3 separate regions of the Homo sapiens genome follow, and all the other regions are linked to region 1. Evidence: fine-mapped expression QTL. A gene starts in region 1. Each other region holds a variant in brackets. All regions are shown on one strand. Distances are between the middles of the regions. Region 1 holds the start of SLC22A23 (solute carrier family 22 member 23). Region 2 overlaps SLC22A23 (solute carrier family 22 member 23). Region 3 overlaps SLC22A23 (solute carrier family 22 member 23).

The links.
Region 2: its variant is fine-mapped to the expression of SLC22A23 in whole blood (TOPMed, PIP above 0.99).
Region 3: its variant is fine-mapped to the expression of SLC22A23 in whole blood (TOPMed, PIP above 0.99).

The regions. Positions count from the first base shown.
Region 1 is chr6:3,454,656-3,460,859 of GRCh38, forward strand. It overlaps SLC22A23 (solute carrier family 22 member 23), which reads right to left and starts at 2,395. Exons shown (of 10, transcript NM_015482.2): 1 at 1,251-2,395. The coding sequence starts at 1,904. It overlaps LOC643327 (a long non-coding RNA gene), which reads left to right and starts at 1,048. Exons shown (of 2, transcript NR_147844.1): 1 at 1,048-1,596. RefSeq lists silencers at 2,163-2,392, 2,453-2,672.
Region 2 is chr6:3,349,687-3,355,890 of GRCh38, forward strand. The region is part of intron 3 of SLC22A23 (solute carrier family 22 member 23); the gene reads right to left. Among named protein-coding and RNA genes, the nearest start is that of PSMG4, 94 kb to the left of the region's middle. RefSeq lists an enhancer at 1-2,337. The variant T/C (reference allele first, on the strand shown) is at 2,778.
Region 3 is chr6:3,357,270-3,363,473 of GRCh38, forward strand. All of the region lies in intron 3 of SLC22A23 (solute carrier family 22 member 23), which reads right to left. Among named protein-coding and RNA genes, the nearest start is that of SLC22A23, 97 kb to the right of the region's middle. The variant C/T (reference allele first, on the strand shown) is at 3,315.

The sequences.
Region 1 (6,204 bases):
AGGTGAACCCAGCTAGAAGGACCTTCCCCATTACCTTGCAGGGCAGCAGGGGCAGCTCAGTCAGACAGTTCCCACAGGACAGAGCATTTCTGGCCAGGTTGGTACAAGATTAAAACAATGATTATGATGATGTAAGAGTTTATCTTACACATCCATGAGCTACAACTGTTAACCAATGCACACGGGGGGAGGAGGTTACATGCACATTGACTATTTAAAACTGTCCAATTTCATACATTTCGACAAAGCATTTAAAACTCTGCCAGAACAGCCCAGAATGGGTAGCGGGTGGGGTGGAGGAGAGTCTGTATTTACTTTAAAATGTGAATTAATTAGTTTAGACACAAGGAGCAAAACTACAAATGTCTTGATATCTCTTATATGTTAAGAATAAAATTACAGCTGTCTAGGGGCATTGAGTGTCCACCATTGCCCACTCTGTGTTTAGGCCTTCACACTTGTCTCACAACTCCCTTCTGCTACATTTCACACCACGCAATACCTCTGCAAGGGAGCTTTAGCTACAGGACTCAGAGGACAAGGTGCATGTTTCAGCTAAAGCACACCCCCGTTCTCAGTGCCTCAGCCCAAAGCAGCTGCTGTGTAAGAGCGGTGACGGCCGGGGAACACCCAAATGACATATTCTCCGCGTCCTTCCTATACTGTAGTGATGTTTACTGAAGTGCTGAGAAAACATGGGAGGAGACACTGGGGTAGCAAAGCCTAAAGTCAGATATCTTTGGGGAGGACTAAGCATCGGCTGCGGGTTGGGGATTTGCAGGAGTCTTTGCTTCTCTGGCTCTCCAGTTCTTTAGTAGGCTTTACCTGTGTCAAAATCAAGTGCGAGATGGAAGACTATTGCTTTGTGGGAGACCCAGGGACAACTAGCCGGGCAGAACAGGGCTGTGGTCCCGACTCCCCCAGCAGACCTTGAACGACGCCAGTCCGACTCCTCCAGAGGGGGCTGGTGACAGGTCAGCTGCCTCGCCCCGAGGGTGGGGGAAGGGCGCGCTTTCCATCCGCGTACTGGGACAGGAGTTTGGGTGCAAACTAGTAAAGGCTATGGTGCTCCCTTTACACCCAAGTAAAGGCATGTGGTTTGGGGGACGGAAGGAGATTAAGCCAATGCGGAATGCCCTACACACACTCTAGCACCACCACTTTGGGGACTTCGGTTCTCCCGCTGGCTCGGGCTTGGACCTCGGTCTGCAGGGAGAGGGTTGGAGGGACTGGGCGGCTGCGGCCCTTACCTTGCTGACCACGTTCTGGACGAGGCCGGCGCGGATGCCGTAGTCCCATGCGCGGCAGTCACAGTTGGAGGCGTTGTCCCCCTTGTCCGGAGGGGATGGCAGGGGTGGTGTGTCGCCTCCGTCCGCGCCGCTGCTGTTGCTCCGGTTGCCCGCAGCCTCCCAGGGGGCAGTGGCGAAGGGGGTGGTGGGGAGGCTGGTCCAGTTGCCCATGTCCCCGCCCCGGCCTGTGGTGGTGACCCCTGCCAGCTCGGTGCCTTTGCCGGCCCCGCGGCACCAGAAGTTGGGCTGGTCCAGGAGGAACGAGTCCGAGAACTGGCTGAAGCCGATGAACAGCGCCGGGATCCAGGTGAGCAGCACGAGGGTCTTCTGATAGCCCCCGCCCAGGCCCCCGAGGAAGGGCAGCACCGACCCGTCATAGTCCAGCAACAAGAGGCTCGGGGCCGCAGCCGCGGAGCAGCAGCTCGGGTGCGGGCCGCCTCCAGGATGCAGTGGGGGCAGCGGCTGGATCTCCGCGCCGCCGCCGGGGCCCGCGCGTCCCCCGAGGGGCGCCGAGGCCGCCGCGTCCCCGGGCGGCAGGGAGCCGTTCTCCTCGGCCGGGGCCGGCTGCCGCCCAGGCCCGCCGCCCGCCGCCTCGCGCCGCCGGTCTATGGCCATGGCCCGGGCCCGCGGCTCCCGCAGAGGCGCATAGAGCGCGGCGGAGGCTCCGCGGGCGCCCCGGGCACAGCGCGCCGGGCCAGGCGCCTGCAGCCGCTGCCGCCGAGGAGGGCCCGCGGCTCGAGAGAGAGCGCTCGGCGGCTCCGGGTGCGTCAGGCCGCCCCCATGTCACCCGCCGGACCCCGCGCCCCGGGCGCTGCGGCCCCGCTCGGGCGCCGGGCAGAGGCGGGCAGAGGCCGGCCGGGCCCTCAGCCGCCGCGGCTCATCAGTTCCGCGGCCCGGGCGCCGGCTGCCGAGCCCGCCGCTCTCCGCTGCTCCGCGCCGGACGCGGCAGGAGGAGGAGCCGGCGCCGCGCCCGGCCCGCGCCCTTGCCGGCGGTTCAGGGCCCTGCGGGCGGCGGTGCGGGCAAAGGCTGCTGCTCCCGGGGTGGCCGCGCTGTATTTCTCCGACTTCGGGCGCCTCCCGGAAGCCGCGAGCTCTGGACCCAGCCTGCCGAGCCGGCCGCGCTCTCCAGCTCCTGGAGCCGGCCCCACTCCTCCTCCTCCTCCTCCTCCTCCCCCTCCTCCCTGCCCCCCGGCCCGCCCCCTCTCCCCCCGCCGAGGTGGAGGTAACCGCGGCACCTGCTGCGCTCGGCTCCTGCTCGCGAGCGCCCCCTCCAGCCCGGACGCGCGGCCGCCGCCGCCCGGGATCCACGGGAGGGGGGCGGGGGAAACGGGACACCCCGGGCCCGCCTGGCTGGAGGATCCCCTGCCCGTTGCCCGTTTCGCGCCGGGCGGGGCGGGGGAGGAGGAGACGCGCGTAGCAGGGGTCGCCGGCCGGCGACGGGTCCCGGCAAAGTCGGCGTGCGCTGAGAACGTGTGGGCCGGGTCTTCTCTGAGGCTGGGCTCCCGCAGCCGCGCGGGCCCCCCACCCACTCCGCGCGCGCCAGGTCTCCGTGACCTCTGTCTCTTCAGAGGTGCCCGGCGGTCCCGCTGCCCGCGCCCCGCTCCCAGTCCCAAGCCCGAGGGTCTTCAGCCTTCGGGAACAACCCTCTGCGCTTTTTCCAGGAGCGAATAAGGTTGATTTTTGTGTCCGTGGAGCAGGGTCAAGGAGGCGCCTTTGCCAATTTCAGGTCGCCAGTCCCCCGCAGTGTCTGGCCACCTGCGACCCGCCGCACCCACTCCCAAATCGCCATTTCTTCCCCCACTCCTAAGTGCATGCGATGTAAGCACGATGCTGGGATATATCTCCAACACAAGTTATAATACACACAGTATAAACGTGATGGCATTCCCCACCCCCTCCCTAAGATCTTGTATTCACGTTTGGAACGCCGTGTGCACAGGCGCACACATCTATACTCTCACACAAGAAGACAAACCTCTCCCTCCTCTCCTGCTCCAGCGCCAACCTTGCCCAGCCAGCGCTGTATAAATAACACCAGCCCTGCGGCAAACGGCTACATTAGCATATTTCCTCCTGCACCCAGCGCACGCACCAAAGAGAATTATCCGGCACCTTTCAACCCAGCGTCCCCACATTTTGGAGGCATTTCATATTCTGAGAAGTTTATTAATGGAAGTCTTAAATGGAGCAATCCATTTCTAGTCTTATTTGGGGCAAAAAAAAAAAAAATGTTTAGCTTTCCAAAAGGATATATTCTAAGCTCCATATACTGAATGTATTCTTTTGCATTTTCATTATTTGCTCAGCTAACCGCTGCACAATTTAGTGGAATACATTTTTAACCTGCAGTTCAGTGTTAAGGGCAACATGTGTTTACTGCATAAAATGCTGGCACATACGTACCAGAGAACTATTTCTGAAGGCTGCCGGGGGGCGGGTCTTGGGGGACAGGGGAGGTTGTGGACCTTCCTGCGTGGCCGAGAAGGGGTGATTAGATAACAATGGGCGGAAGGGGCCCTAAGGGCTGCAAAAGACACCAGACCGCTGAGAAATGGGTCTGGAAACCACATATATAAAGAGCTGGGGGCTTGGGGCGGGGGGGGACACGATAGTGCACGTTGTGTACGTGGTAATTTTTCAACTTCACATTATTTATTAGCTTAACTTTTCTTTTCCTTCCCTCTCCTCCCCTCATTTGAAGAGCTAATACATGCAAAGTTCTGACCTCCATGCCTGGAACAGAGTAAGTGCGCAATGAATGTTAGACATGTATTATTACCAGTGCTCCTCTTGCCATTACATACAATCCACATTTCTTTTTGAATTGAAATATAACTTTACGGATTTTATTTATTTTCCTTTCAGTGGCTGATTTTCCAGAAGAGGTCCACTTTGTGTCTGGCTCTGCCTCCCTTCCCCCACAGTCACAAGGACCCATTTGTTTTCTTGTAACTGATCACAAAAGGAGCATTGCCATTGACCTTAATGGCCCTTCCAATCAGAATAACTATCATAGCCAGCGTTTCAGAGTTGGCTTTCAAATTCACACTCTCACTCAGTCCTCACATTCAGCGCCCCAAGAAGTGGGCTTTCAAAGAGAAACAGCAAGGATCAGGTGACTGACTACCAGATCAAAGAGTTGGTCCCCAGCTGAGCCAAATATCTGGTTTTGAACCCAGATTTTCTGACTGGACATTACCGGATTTCTCCATTTCATCATACAGGGGCAACTATAGGGAAGAGTTTACAAAGATGTTTGTTAATGTGCATTTTTACGTGGGAGAAGCCCTGGCCCTAGGAAAAGAGTTTCATTGTGAAGATGTTATTAGTCTTTGTTCGCAAAAGGTGGTAAAAATCCTCAAATGGTACATTCTTAGAATTTAGGGACACACTGGAAAATGGTATCCTCTAAAACTGAAGCTAAAAGGAGGCAACATAAAATGTTTGAAATTAACTAGCTGCAGCACTGACCCAGGCATTGTAATTAAGCTGTTGATTAGATTAGAGGTTTCCCTAAATTCCTCCTGGATTGATATTTCCACCAAATCTAGTCAAGAAGATTAAAGTGTAACTACTTTAAAATAAAGTGGCCTTCAATTTATTAAAACATACCACAAGTGATCTCATAACGTGAGCAAAAGGAGTAAAGAGGAAGAATTTGACACTCTGACAGCCTCAGTGGGTGAGGTTTGAGATCCATGGACCAGGATAGGAAAGCCAGACACCTGTTAAAAAATTACTGTTTTTAATTTTCTGAATGAGCATTATCATCAGCTGCTATTTTTCTTGTTTGCTTAGTTAGATTTACGTTCTGCCTCTAGAATGTAAGCACCTTCGGGGATAGGTGCCTTGTGCTCAGCTGTATGCTTGGTGGTTAAAACAGTGCCTGGTACATGCAAGGCACTCAATACATCTTTGTCAAATAAATGAGTGTATCAAGTTATTAATCACTTGATGATACTGTCTATTCAAATCATCAAACTGTTTACTTTGTTTCTTAAATCATCAAGCAACCTTTTTGTGTTTGTTCATCTCTCAAAGATGGTGCTCAGATCAGCCAACATGAGACTTGAAATGAATTTGACAATTATATGTCTTGTTGTAAGGCATTGTGGTTACTGGATTAGCTCCCAATATTATCTTCTCTTGGGCAGTATTGGCTTGCAGATGGTGGCTTATAGGCCAAATGCAGCTCACAGACCATAGGCAATGTTTTCAGGAAAATAATTGCTAACATTTCAAAATTGGGAGATTGAATACTTAGAAAAAAATGTGTTTTGGGCTTCTCTGAACATCATAGCAGAAGCCATTGTCCTTTTGATGCCCCATGTTTGCAGGACCGTGCTTTCTTGGACTGCAGTAAATGAGCAGGCACTCTCCAGCTTGCCCTCATCCCTGCCTGACACATGCCCCTCATGCATGACATTTGGCCCCCAAAAGTAGCTGTGTTTGTGACCCTAAATTTATGTGAGTATCCTGAACCCAGTGATCTTAATAAAGAAGCTGAGTCATTCCCTTTTCCTTTGAAAGTATGTTAAAGAATCTACCAGTTTATAGTTTTCTAAAAATTGAGAAAATAAGGAAAGGAAATGAAAGTCATAACCTAATCACCAATACATTTGAACAGTTTTATTTCCTTGGAGATAACAGGAGAAAAAATGTTTTAGCTTACCTCTAAAATTGATGGAAACCTAATTTTAAATCCTCTATAATTCTGTAAAAGTTAATTCTAAGGAATTCAAGTCAGGGTTAATTAACTTTAAATGTACGCTGCAAGTCATACCAAATGTATTTCACGTTGGTTTCTCTGATTATTCATGGTCTTTATACTTGAATTATAGATAGATATATCACATTTTAGAATATCCTGTGTCATTTTTTTTTTAAACTGCAGCTTGATTTCTTCCTTTCAAAT
Region 2 (6,204 bases), 100 kb before region 1:
AGTGCTTTAAATATCACTGAATCTCAGGAGGTGGAAGAGCAGAGTGGAGAAGATGAATTATTTGAACTACTCAGAAATAAGCCTAACATGAAAGCAGGAAATTCATATGAAGTGGGCAGTGCCTCAAGCAACCTGATATCTTCAGGAAAGATAAGGTGGTGGCTTATTGCTCCCATCGCTCTCTGATCACAGACCTGGGACAGAGCACCTCTTCCAGGGCTCTTGATTCCTGTGATACACGAAGGCAGATGATCACGGTCGCCTTCATCCCCTCTTGGGGGCTAAGTACATTCACAGTCCCTTGGTTCTTGGTCTTTGTGTCCTTTGAAGCACATAAAAGTCTGGTGGATGAGTAGGACCATGGTTGATAGAAAATTATTTCCCAGTACTGCACAGCATAGTGACTCAGCATGCATGCACACACACACCCCAAATTTTCATGAAACGATACTTAACCCTTATTGTGTGTGATGCACTTAATTCTATTTTTTTCTTTAAAAATGCTGGGCAGGACCCACCCGATGGATTCTATAACCCTTAACCCAAGCCCTAATGTGTCATAAACTACAGTTTTAAAAGCTGCTCTAAAGTAGGGTTGGAAAACTATGACCCTCGGGCCAAATCCTGCTGAAGGCTGCTGTTTTTGTACAATGCACTGCCTGATTTTATTCAGCTCGTCCCTAAGAATGGACATTTTTAAATGGTTCAAGACAACCAAAAGATGAATAATATCTCTTGTGTGAAGTTTATGTGAAATTGAAATTTTAGTGTCGACAAATGCGGCTTTTGTGGAATGCGGTCACACTCATTCACCTCCAGATTGTCCATGGCTGCTGTTGCAGTAGCAGGGAGTAGTAGGTGGGGCAGAGACCGTATGGCCTGCACAGCCCAGAATATTCATGTTCTGGCCCTTTGCAGAAAACTTGGCCCATGCCTGCTCTGAAGCTTTGACAGCTGCAGGCTGGATTAACTGATCCATTCGTCAAACTGGTTGTCAGAGCCAGCATGTTTTAGTTATCCTTCAGTTTCTAACAGAAAAATCAGCATTATTACTTAAAAAATGCAAATGGTGATTTTTATTATGAGAGCAGATTCCTCAAGGGAGACGGAGTTATTTTCACATCAGAGAGAGAAAACAAATGGAATTTCTTGGTGGTAATGGGGAGCTGGTCTCACTGCCCTTCTCACTCCCATTCTGAGGTCAATCATCTTGTATCTTCAAAGGGCACTTGAATTTTTAATCATCTTCTCTTATTGACGCATTTAATTTGTGGTGAAAGAGAAAGATTTTTTTCTTAAAAAAAAAAATCCCTTTTGAATTTACTAACTTATAATGGTGAGCCTGCATTTCCTCCAGGAGAAGCAAGGCCAGGCCGATTTGAACAAATTCCACTTAAAATTCAAGAAACCCATGTGAGATGAAAAGTACCCTCAGAATGGCCACAAACAAAGACCTCATAAAAGGCTAATGCCGTTTGTATAGAATTACAGGAAAGAAAGTGAGAGCTAGAGAGGCCCTCGCAGTTAAAGCCCCCAGCTTTTGTGAGGCTCAGGCAGGATGGAAAAAAAATCTCCCTATTAGCATTCTAGCCGGATGGCCCTTTGTCCAGTGTAATCGGAGTGCGGTGGAAAATGCCAGGCAATTTAGCCTCTTAGGGTGGAAAACGAAGGGGCGAAGGAAAAGGGTTGGGGAAAAATAATCTGATGTTATCAGCTAGTGCTGGCAGAAAGACAAGTCTTGAGATTTTATGGGGTGGGGGTGGCTGAGCTGGGCAATGAACACAAATCCTGGGGGTTGCCCTGAGCGTGCCAGGCAGCGGGGAACGTTCAGCCCACAAGTACTGGACGGTCAGGACTAATGAGCAGTCATCCAGGCTCAGTCAACAGCCCTCTCTGTGGCTTCCCGCCCACCCCTCCCACTGCTCTGGAAACCTCTCTCCCCTCGACCTTTCCTGGCTTTCGCCTAAGAACACGTCACTGGCCACTTCAAAGATTCTGTAACCCATCTCCTCCCCCAGCCACACTGTACCACAGGGTGGGCCCTATGGAGCCATATTTCTGCTATTTGGTATCAAAACTGTCCCCGAGGAGACTTGCTACTTCATTCAGGACTGAGCCAGGAAACCCAGGTTTCTAATGCATTCTCATCAAATGTACATGACCCCCAGGTGAGCAGGAGGATGGGCAGCAGGGCCAAGGCCTGAGCTGCTGCAGTCATGGGGACCACCTCGAGGCAGATGGAGTTCCCATCTAGGCCACACCAAACAGGAGAGCAGGGAGGGATGCTCTGGGTGGATGACTGTCCACCACCCGACTGGTAAGGCTGCTCCGTTTCTGAAATGGGCGTCAAGGCGAAAGCACTCCATGGCCTCCCCTCCCCAGGCAGGGCTGCTGGAGTGCTGAGAGGTGGCAGAGGCCATGGCAAAACCAGGCCCACCAGGACCACAGATAAGGAAGGGAGGAACAGGGCAGGTTGTGGAAGGAGATGTGAGAGTGCCTCTTGTCCTGCTGCTCTGACAGTGAAAACCACGTACACGGACATGTACAGACACACAGACACTCACAAACATACACACACAGACATGCACACACACACACACACACAGCCATAGACACTTACAAGCATGCACACACAGACATGCACAGACACACACACACACAGCCACAAACACAAGCACATACAGACATGCACAGACACACTCACACACAGACACAGCCACAGAAGCTCACCGGCATGCATGCACAGACACACACAGACACATATTGACCCATTCACA[T/C]ACACGGCCACATACACACATAGGCATACTTGCAGACACACAAATACACAGACAGAGAGAAAGAGAGCAGGTGAGCACACACCAAGCCCCGGCCATAACAAAAGGGAGAAAAGGCTCTGATCTCTGCCATTCTTGTTTTTCCATCTGAAAATGAGAAACCTGCTACTGGGACTCACCTGAATCATGGAAAATGGACTCACTTGAGTCCTTAAATCATACTCTCACAGCATATGAAAACTGCCAAGCTTCCTGGAGGTCTGAGGATAAATGGTGTCGCTTACAGGTGTTCAAAAAGCAGAGAAATGACAATTCTTTAATTAATCTGAGTGAAGGAAAAGCACATAGTGCAAACCCAGAGCCAACAGCAGTTTAGAGACGCTCCCTGGATACGCATGGACAAGCCGCGTGCCCTGCAAACACCCGGGAGAAGATCAGTCGCCCCCGTGACCTGCACCTTGCTACCAGAACCCCCAGTGGTCAGCTTGTCCCAACAGGACTTTGTTGCTGAGGAACAGGGTCAAAATATGTATGAAAATACTACAGTGATTATATTCATTTTTTGCCTGAAATTTTAAGTAAGACTTTTTACCCTGTTCTTCAGCAACGACCAGACCGTGTCAAGAGATGCAAAGTCTCACCTGTGAGTGCTCCGCCTAATCTAAAATTACATGTAAGTATTATTACTTCCCTGCTCACAGGAATAATCTGTTATTCTTGGAGATTTTGAAGGCAAGATGGCAAAGGGCCATAAAAGGCACATAACTGTGGGCCTTTACCTGGCTGCTTAAACCAAAACCTGGTTTTCCAGCATTTGAACAAAAAAAGGGAAACTCCGTCTGTGTTAGATTTCCTATACCACAGCCAGCTCCCCAATGAAGAGGTGCTGCCTGATTCTCCCAGCTGCCAATCTTGCCCTCTTCTACAGCATTTTAGTTAAAATAACTTCCTGTGTCTCAACATCTGGCTTGAGCGGTTTGGCTTCAGGCCTGAATCCCACTCAATGGGAAATGCCGTGACCCTCATGCTGGGATTCACGATGTCACCTGCTTGATTGAGGTGTTCATTATGCTTTACAAAATCACATGTATAAGACTATTAGGAAAACAGTTCAGCTGCAAATCACAAGACTAGGGCTACTGGAATTTTTGCTCCCAAATCACTAGATCAGTCAACCACTGCCTTTCCAGGTAAAGGGCTGTGCTCGCCTCGTCCCATTACCGAAGCTGTGATGTGGCTCTTCTGCCCTGTGCACTGCCACCCAAATGTACTCACGTGATTTCTGGCTTCCAGGGCTGCTGTTCCCAAGAGCTCCCTCCTCAGGAAGCCACACCATTCCCCCACCTTCTTAGTAGAGGCAGACTCTCCCTTCTACCACCAGTGTTTCCCAGGACCCCAGTTCTGGCCCAGAGCATGACAGCATCGAGGAAGCCTCATGCAGAGGCTCCTTACAGATCCCAGACTACCAACTTTTCCAGGTCTCCTATGCGTGGGCTGCTTTACTTTCTCTAAGAAGGCACAAGGAAAAATGCTGGTCCTTGGGTCGGTTGACTGAATCCTTTGATGTGACAGGTAGCTAAGCCACTTATCTGGACCCATAAACCTCCTTGGCAGGCCTGATTGGATTGTGGAAATTTCGATGGTGATCACATGTGTTTTCTCCTTAGAGTTGGCATGGCCAAGACAAGAGCCACATGCAACTTCTAAGCAAAACACACACACAGGCTCACACAAACACATAGCATGGTGCACTCCCAACGGAGAGGCAGTCAGGGCATTGGATGGGCAAAGACACTCCTTTCAGGACCCTTCAAAGGTAAATTCAACAGGAAGTGCACATTTACGGAGGAGCAAGTGACTAAAGGCACTCACAGACTTTTCCTTCTCTTGACTTGTGTACCTTTACATCTTTACATGAGGTGGGTTGGGTAAACAAAAGAAAATCTCAAGAAGATTCAGATTCTCTTTCCATGTCCCTGCTGCATTTAATAAGTTCCTCGATTGTAGTGACCACTGTACTGTGGTCAGATCCATCGATATAGCAGAGACTCTGTGCCTCAAAGGCAAGGCAATGTCTTTCCATCCTCAAGAGACCCAGCATCCAGCAGGCACTCAAGAAAGGATGGGTGAACCATTTATTAGTGGGTAAAGCAATGGATGAACTGAAACACAGTCTGTTTTTAGTTGATGTCCCAGTAAGAGTGTTAGGGGGAAGTCAAGGTGTTGGAGGGGTTGCTCTAGATTTCAATGATCCACACCATCTCTAATTTCTTACTAATTAATCAAATAGTGAATGTCTAACAAATGGGGAAGGTACTATGCTGGGCCAAGTAGCCATGTAATGGGTTTCTGAATCTCATAATTCAACATCATCTTCTTCAACTGACACTTGTCTTTCCAGGTCAATTAAGCAGGCAGCCTCATTAGTTCATGGGTAGACAACACGCAGAACAGACAAAGCAGGACCTGAGGGCCAGAGGGTGACAGTATCTAACTCTGCCCCTAAAAGCACAAGGCATTTGGACAATTTGTGCTACACTCTTTCCTTTAAACAGGCAACAGGAAAAACAATAAAAGATATTCCTACTACCGAGTTTATAAAAACACAAACAAAAAAAACCAGCGCCTCTCCACATGGCAGTATTCAAATCCTTATCTTTGGGCTCCTACCCTCTATCTGCTTGGAAACAGCTCCCTGTCTTTGTGGCCGCCACCCTCCCCAGCTAAAAAAAAAAAAGTCTCCCTCCAAATACTATCCAGTAGCTCTTCAAATAAAATGGGATGAATAGAGAGGCCTTGATAACCACCAGTTTTCTCATCTTCAAACTGGAAATCAGAAATAATATCAGTAAAGACATCGACTTATTAGGTACAGTGAGAAGCCTTTGAACTTAAAAGACGGGAGGAAGACAAGCATGCTGCTCGTGGGTTCGTCACACCCTGTTCTATGCAACAAAGCAACCCTCCCTGGGTCGAGAAAAAAAATCTCCATGATGATCTCTTAGAAATATAAATGTATTTATAGATAGATATTTTCCCTCTTACCATGTGTATAAGAGAACAGGACGTTGCTGGGCAGAGGGAAGTTATTGTGTGAAGGCCAAGGTCATAACAAGGTTACCGTTCTCATGAGTCTGGGCTAGGTCTGGGCCCTCCCGCCCCGCTCCCTGTATCAGCCCCACTCCCAGGCTCCAGAGCTAGGCCACTTGATGCCTGGTCAGTCCTTTCTGTGCCTTCCCAAATTTACTCTCAATTTCTGGCTCATCTACTATTCTCATTTGCTATTTCTTAAGTTCTGGGCCACGGGAGCCCAAGGTCTCACTCAGCCCTGCACAAACCCCAGCTCTCAAAGCCGGCGTCGCTCTCACTCATTCCCTGTCTCCGCATCGACACGGAGGAGCCACTGGATATAACGCTGAGGTATTAAAAA
Region 3 (6,204 bases), 97 kb before region 1:
AACCAGCTGGAGGACTTATCCCAGCCTCTGTAAAGTCTTTGCTAATAATTATCCAGACAGCTTTCCTAATTTTTATTTTTAAATGGGGTTGTGGCTCAGCAATAGTGTAAGGATTAATCGCCTTATCAATTAGCATGAGGAAAGGACTGCAAATACAAAGTAGGTGTGTTCTTCCTGGCTTTCTACCTGCTCAATTAGGCTCAGGTCTTAAATGATTTCCAAAATTGGACTACATCTACTGTGTTTACTTCATTCTAAATATCAAAAAGATATCTAAAAGCTTATCATAAAAAAATTTAGAATTTCCCTTTTTGGTTACCAGCCTAAAAGCTCCTTAGTTTAGGGACTGTGTTCTTATTCAACAAGCCATGCCCAGCTCCTGGTTCACAGAACACACTGAATAATGACAAATAATGGAAAACAGAAGGCGGCTGTGTATAATGAATGCATTTCATTCACTTATTCAGCAAGGAGGATGAGGTAGCACCATGCCAGGGGAGATGCCGAGATGAAGCCACACCACCGGCCTCAAGGGGCTCACAGTCTGATGAAGAGACACGTGCCTATAAGACACAGATGGGGTTCTGTGCTACAGGAATGCAAAGAAAGGGACGAGGCCTGGGGAAGACTTCACCAAAGAAGCAGCATTTGAATCTTCCCTTAAGGGAAAAGGAAGTAGGACTGTCCTGCCATGTGGGTGAGGGGAAGGGAAGAGGCCTGGGAGGAGAGTTTTCAGAGAGGCAACCAGCTCTTGCAAAGGCGGCCAGTGCAGAAGAGGCTAGACAGGTTAGGTTCTCAGTATCAAAGTCCCCAGGATGGAGAGAAATTGGAACCTTTAAACACTGTTGGTAGGGATGCAAAAATGGTGCAGCCATTATGGAAAACAGTATGGCAGTTCCTCAAAAAACTAAAACTAGAACTGCCATATGATCCAGTGATTCTACTTCCAGGTACTTATCCAAAAGAATTGAAATTAGGATCTCAAAGCACTTGACGTGAGCGCTCCCACGTTCACTGCAGTGTTATCCACAACAGCCAAGATATGGAAACAACGCAGAGGTCCACTGATAGGTGAAGGGACACACGAAACACAGTGAAAAATACAATAGAATATGATTCCGCTTAAGAACGAATGAAATTCTGACACGTACGACACGTGGATGAACTTGGAGGAATTATGTTAAGTGAAATAAGCCAGTCACAGAAGGACAAATACTACATGATTCCACTTACATGAGGCATGTAAAAATAGGCAAATTCAGAAAATCAAAGAGTGGGCTGATGGTTGCCGGGGGTAGAGGGAGGGAGACATGGGGAGTTGCTCGTCAACTAGCATCAGCTTTCAGGCAGGCGAGATGAATAAGCTCTGGAACTCTGCTGCACACATTGTGTCTATAGTTCACGATACTGTGCTGTACACTGAAAAAACCTGTTAAGAGGGTGGGTCTCATGTTAGATGTTCTTACCACAAATAAAATTAAAAAATAAAATAAAAAAGGCCCCAGGAGAGTTTCTGTTTCATCAACCCAAGGAAAACACCGGAAGGAGTCACAGCTCCAGTGAGGAAGAAGTGAGAAGGGATCTGCCATCGGGGGCTGGAGGGATGGTGGGAACCTTTGCCATTTCAAAGGGAAGCCCTGGCTCCCCTCGGGCACAGCATCCTGGGTGGGGTCTGCACCCCGAGCTGCCACCCATTGCATTTCCATGTCAGCGCCATGTCAGGTGCGCTGTGCCGATGTCTAATCAAGTCTCAGTCATTCAGGATGAAGAGAGAATAGGGAATTCAAAATACATAACTGCAAAAATGAAAGCTCCTTTATTAATTTAGTGCAATACAGAGACGTCCCAGAACAACACGGGCTGCATCCAGAATCACAGATCATTTCAACTAAGAAAAAGATGGGCACCGAGAAGGAGAGCGAGGAACATGCCAGCTGAGACTCATTTCATTCTAGGACAGTACTAGAATGAGCATCTCACTGGGAATTCACCGCCCTCAGGCAGATAACAGATGCTGCTAAGCTATGCTAGCTGGTGTTGCCACGTTTATTCTTCATCACTGAGTGGTTCTCCTTAGGTCACACATATAACTATCCATCTGAGTGCAAGTTTAAAACAAAACAAAAACTGAAGAGGACATACAGATGGCCAAGAAGCACATGGAAAGATGCTCAACGTCACTGTCATCGGGGAAATGTACATCACAGCGACAATGTGGTAGCCCTTCACATCCATCAGGATGGTAGCTGCTGTCAAACAAACAGGAAATAACAAGTGCTGACAAGAATGTGGGGAAACTGGAACCCTGGTGCACCAGTACATTCCTGGTGGGAATGTACAACGGTGCAGCCAACTGGAGAAAACAATATCCCTGTTCTTCATAGAATTAAACAGAGGATTACCATCTGACTCAGCAATGCCACTTTTGGGTATAACCCCCCAAAAGTGAAAGCAAGGACCTGAAATGATATTTGCACACCTATGTTCACGGCAGCATATTCACAACAGCCAAAAGGTGGGAGCAACGCAGGTGTCCATCAACAGATGAATGGATAAGAAAATGTGATCCATCCAGAGGATGAAATATAACTCAGCCTTAAAAAGGGAGGCCATATCCAACATATGCTATAGTATAAAGGAAGCATTTTTTCTTTTTTTCTTATTTTCACTTATTTTTGTCCTTAGAGGTCCTTGTTCTGAGGGAATCCTGAAGACATTATGCTAAGTGAAGTAAGCCAGTCACAAAAGGACAAATATTGCATGATCCACTTAAATAGGTTCTTAGGTAGGCAAATTCATAGAAACAGAAAGTAGAAGGGTGGCTGCTCGGGACTAAGGGATGGGAATGGGGAGTGTTTATTGGGGACAGAGTTTGTTTGGGAAGATGAAAAGACCTCTAGAGATGAAGGGTGGTGATGGCTGTGTAAAAATGTGAATTACTTAATGCCACTGAATGGTACAATTAAAAGTAGTTAAAATGGTAATTTTTATGCTATGTTTATTTTACCATGATAAAACAAACACCCCCCTCCAAATAAAACAACAACAAAAAAGGCAAGTCCGTAGTATTGGCCTTTGAGAGCTCTGACCTCAGCTGTGCCCCGCCCACCCATCCACCCAAGGATCCTTAAACTCAGGAGGATCAGAAAGGCTCAATCACCAGGAGGTGAGGTGAGTCACAGAGCTCACTGCATTGCCATTCTTGGGGGCATTTGTCTCATCTGCCTTAAAATACAGAACTGCATTCTCATAGTCGGGTTTCAGGCAACGGCTCAACCGTGGAGGGAGGTCACTTTGGGGCCTTTGCACACATC[C/T]GAGTCAACCTCAACAGTCTTAGTCCACACATCTCTGTATTTCCGGTCACTTATTGCTATGCTGACTGCTCATCTAAGCCCCAGATACTGTCCCAGTTATTTAGGAGACAAAGAGGCCCTCAAGCTGGCCTGAGCCCCCAAGGGGTCCTCAGTGATGTCGACACGACAGGTGTGCAGGCACCCCCATGCAGACGGGCCCCTCTGATGGAGACCTGCGTTCGGCCAGGCAGGCCCACAGCTGGCGTGGTCATCCAGGGCGGGAACGGGATTGGACGAAGCCTTCCCTCGGGCAAAGATGCTGGGGTGGGGAACAGGTGCAGCAGGAACAGAAGGTCAGAGCGTGGTACTGGGGTGACGAGAGGCGCTAGCGAACATCAGCAGCTGCGGGGAGCTCGAGGCAGCAGGGATGTCCAGGCCACAGAAGGTGTCCCACATTTTATATTCCTGTTGTTTGTATATTTTCTATTTCTACCCACCCCCCCCATTTTATGCCTGACCCCAAGTTAAACTGCTTAAGGACTTAAGACCCCAACCAGCTGTGACTTAGATCAGGGTTTCTCCCCCAAAGGAGCCTGCAGCAGTGTCACACAGAACACACCCCCTCAACTGTCTTTCTACTGAAAAAAAAGAGAGGGAAACGTGCTTCAATAAGAGGGACACAGGGACCCCCAAGCCCTGCCCTTTAGAGAAGCTTAAAGACTCCTACATCATTCTTTTTTTTTTTTTTTTTAAGGAATTGGGTCCCTTCCATCTGTGGCCATGACCGTTCATCCCACAGCCTGTCCTCCTCTCTTGAGAGCTGTCCTGGCTCAGGCTGTGGCTGGATTCTCAAGCAGCATCATGTGGCCAGGTTAGGAGCAGGATGTCACAGAGAGAGGGGTCCAAAGTTCAGCTGCTGGGAAAGGCCACAAAGACTGGGGTCCCAGGAGAACGGCGACCTGCCTATCAGTTCTATCTCTAAAACTCTGGGGTTCGACTCTCCAGACTTAGCTTCTGTTCCCAGCTTTACAGAGGACAAGGGGCTGGGCCCATGAGTCTCTCTGCATCAGCAACACCTCACTCTCAGTTGAATTCAGACTCGAAAGCCCAGTCTCAACACAGCAAGCCCCATGGGATCCAAGAAATACTGCTCCATGCGTCTGTTACCCAGTTGTCTTTTTGCTGAATCACATTGTGGGGGCAAGAAGAAACATGAGGCCATCTCAACAGATCGCAAAGGCCTCCACGGCTGGGACACCTGTCAAGCGGGAAACACGTGCCGGTTCTCACGCTACGACCTAGGGAGATGAAGACATGGTCCCTACCCCGAGGGATTTACAATCAGGCATGGAAAATACTCCAAATCCAACACCACACTGCCACATGCTGATGGTCATGCCAGAGTGCACACAAGGACTGTAGAAACATGGAGGAAACCTATCAGATCATTCTATACACCTTCCCTTCAGATTCATGTGCTTGTCAGCAAATTAAAGGCTCTGTGAGGTCCTCTAGGGAAAAATAAATTTTTTTTTTAAGCAAACTTTAAAAAAATTAGCGGCCAGGTGTGGTGGCTCACGCCTGTAATCCTAGGACTTTGAGAGGCCGAGGTGGGTGGATTGCCTGAGCTCAGGAGTTCGAGACCAGCCTGGGCAACATGGTGAAACCCCGTCTCTACTAAAATACAAAAAATTAGCTGGGCGTGGTAGCATGCGCCTGTAGTCCCAGCTACTCGGGAGCTGAGGCTGGAGAATCGCTTGAATCCGGGAGGCAGAAGTTGCAGTGAGCCGAGATCACACCACTGCACTCCAGGCTGGGCGACAGAGCGAGATTCCGTCTCACAAAAAAAAAAAATAAAATAAAAAATAAAAAATAAAAATTAGCATGCATTTTCATCAGGGATTGAAACACCCACCAAGGATACTGTTTCCTGAACCAAACAGTTGTTAACCAGGCAAAGGCCATGACCTTTCTGAGATCTCTTCATGGCCCTGGGCTCCATGGGATTGAGATTAATGAGCACAGCAAAGCCCCCCATCCCATCTCCTTAGCAAGGTAACAAAGGAATGGAACTCTGGGGCCAGGCAGAACCCCCAAGATGCCATCTACAAATCTGGCCTCTCCGTCTCTCCACTACACAGAGTGAGGATGGGAGAACCAGAGCCCAGCTCTCTCCATGGAGAAAGGCTGCAGGTCCCAGAAGCAGGTAGACCTCCAGGACCCAGGAGAGGAAGCATGAATGAAATGCAGACATTAAGGACCATCGAATAAAGATTTTGAGGGCAAGGGGAATGGGGTGGTGGGACAGGGGAATGTCCTGTGCCAGCTTTTGCCATGACCACCTCTTTGTTTCCATGTGCGCGTGAATGAAATATTAAATAGGCTTGGCCAATTAACAACCTTTAAACTCTGGACTGCTCAGAGCCCAAGGAAGAGAGTTTTGATCTGCATTCCCACTTGACCTGCTCAGCACTCGGTGGGACATCCCGCAGCCCACTGCCTGCAACTTCTGATGAGCATCAGAAATGGGCTCTCCGCTCAGCTGGGACATGAGGCATAGCACACTCAGGCAGGGGCATGTTTTTTGTGACTTATATCTTTGCCATTTTAAATTAACACAAAATACAAAAGCAGTTGGGTCTCCCCTCTACCAAAGTCAGTTTTCTTTTCCTGCAGCCCTGGCTGGCCCATCCTCACCAGGCGCAGCAGCAATGGGTGAGCTCCGGCAGCACAGCACATGTGTCACAGCAGGATTGAATGGTCAGCAATTGTCTGTAGGGCTCTGTCCCAGGGGCCAGGCCACCGCCAGAACAGGACCTAAGACAGGGCCCAGGCTTCCTCCTCGGGGGACTGTGACACCCCAGGACACAGGCTGAGGAGAGGCTGTGAGGGAGAAGGGGAGGGGATGGAA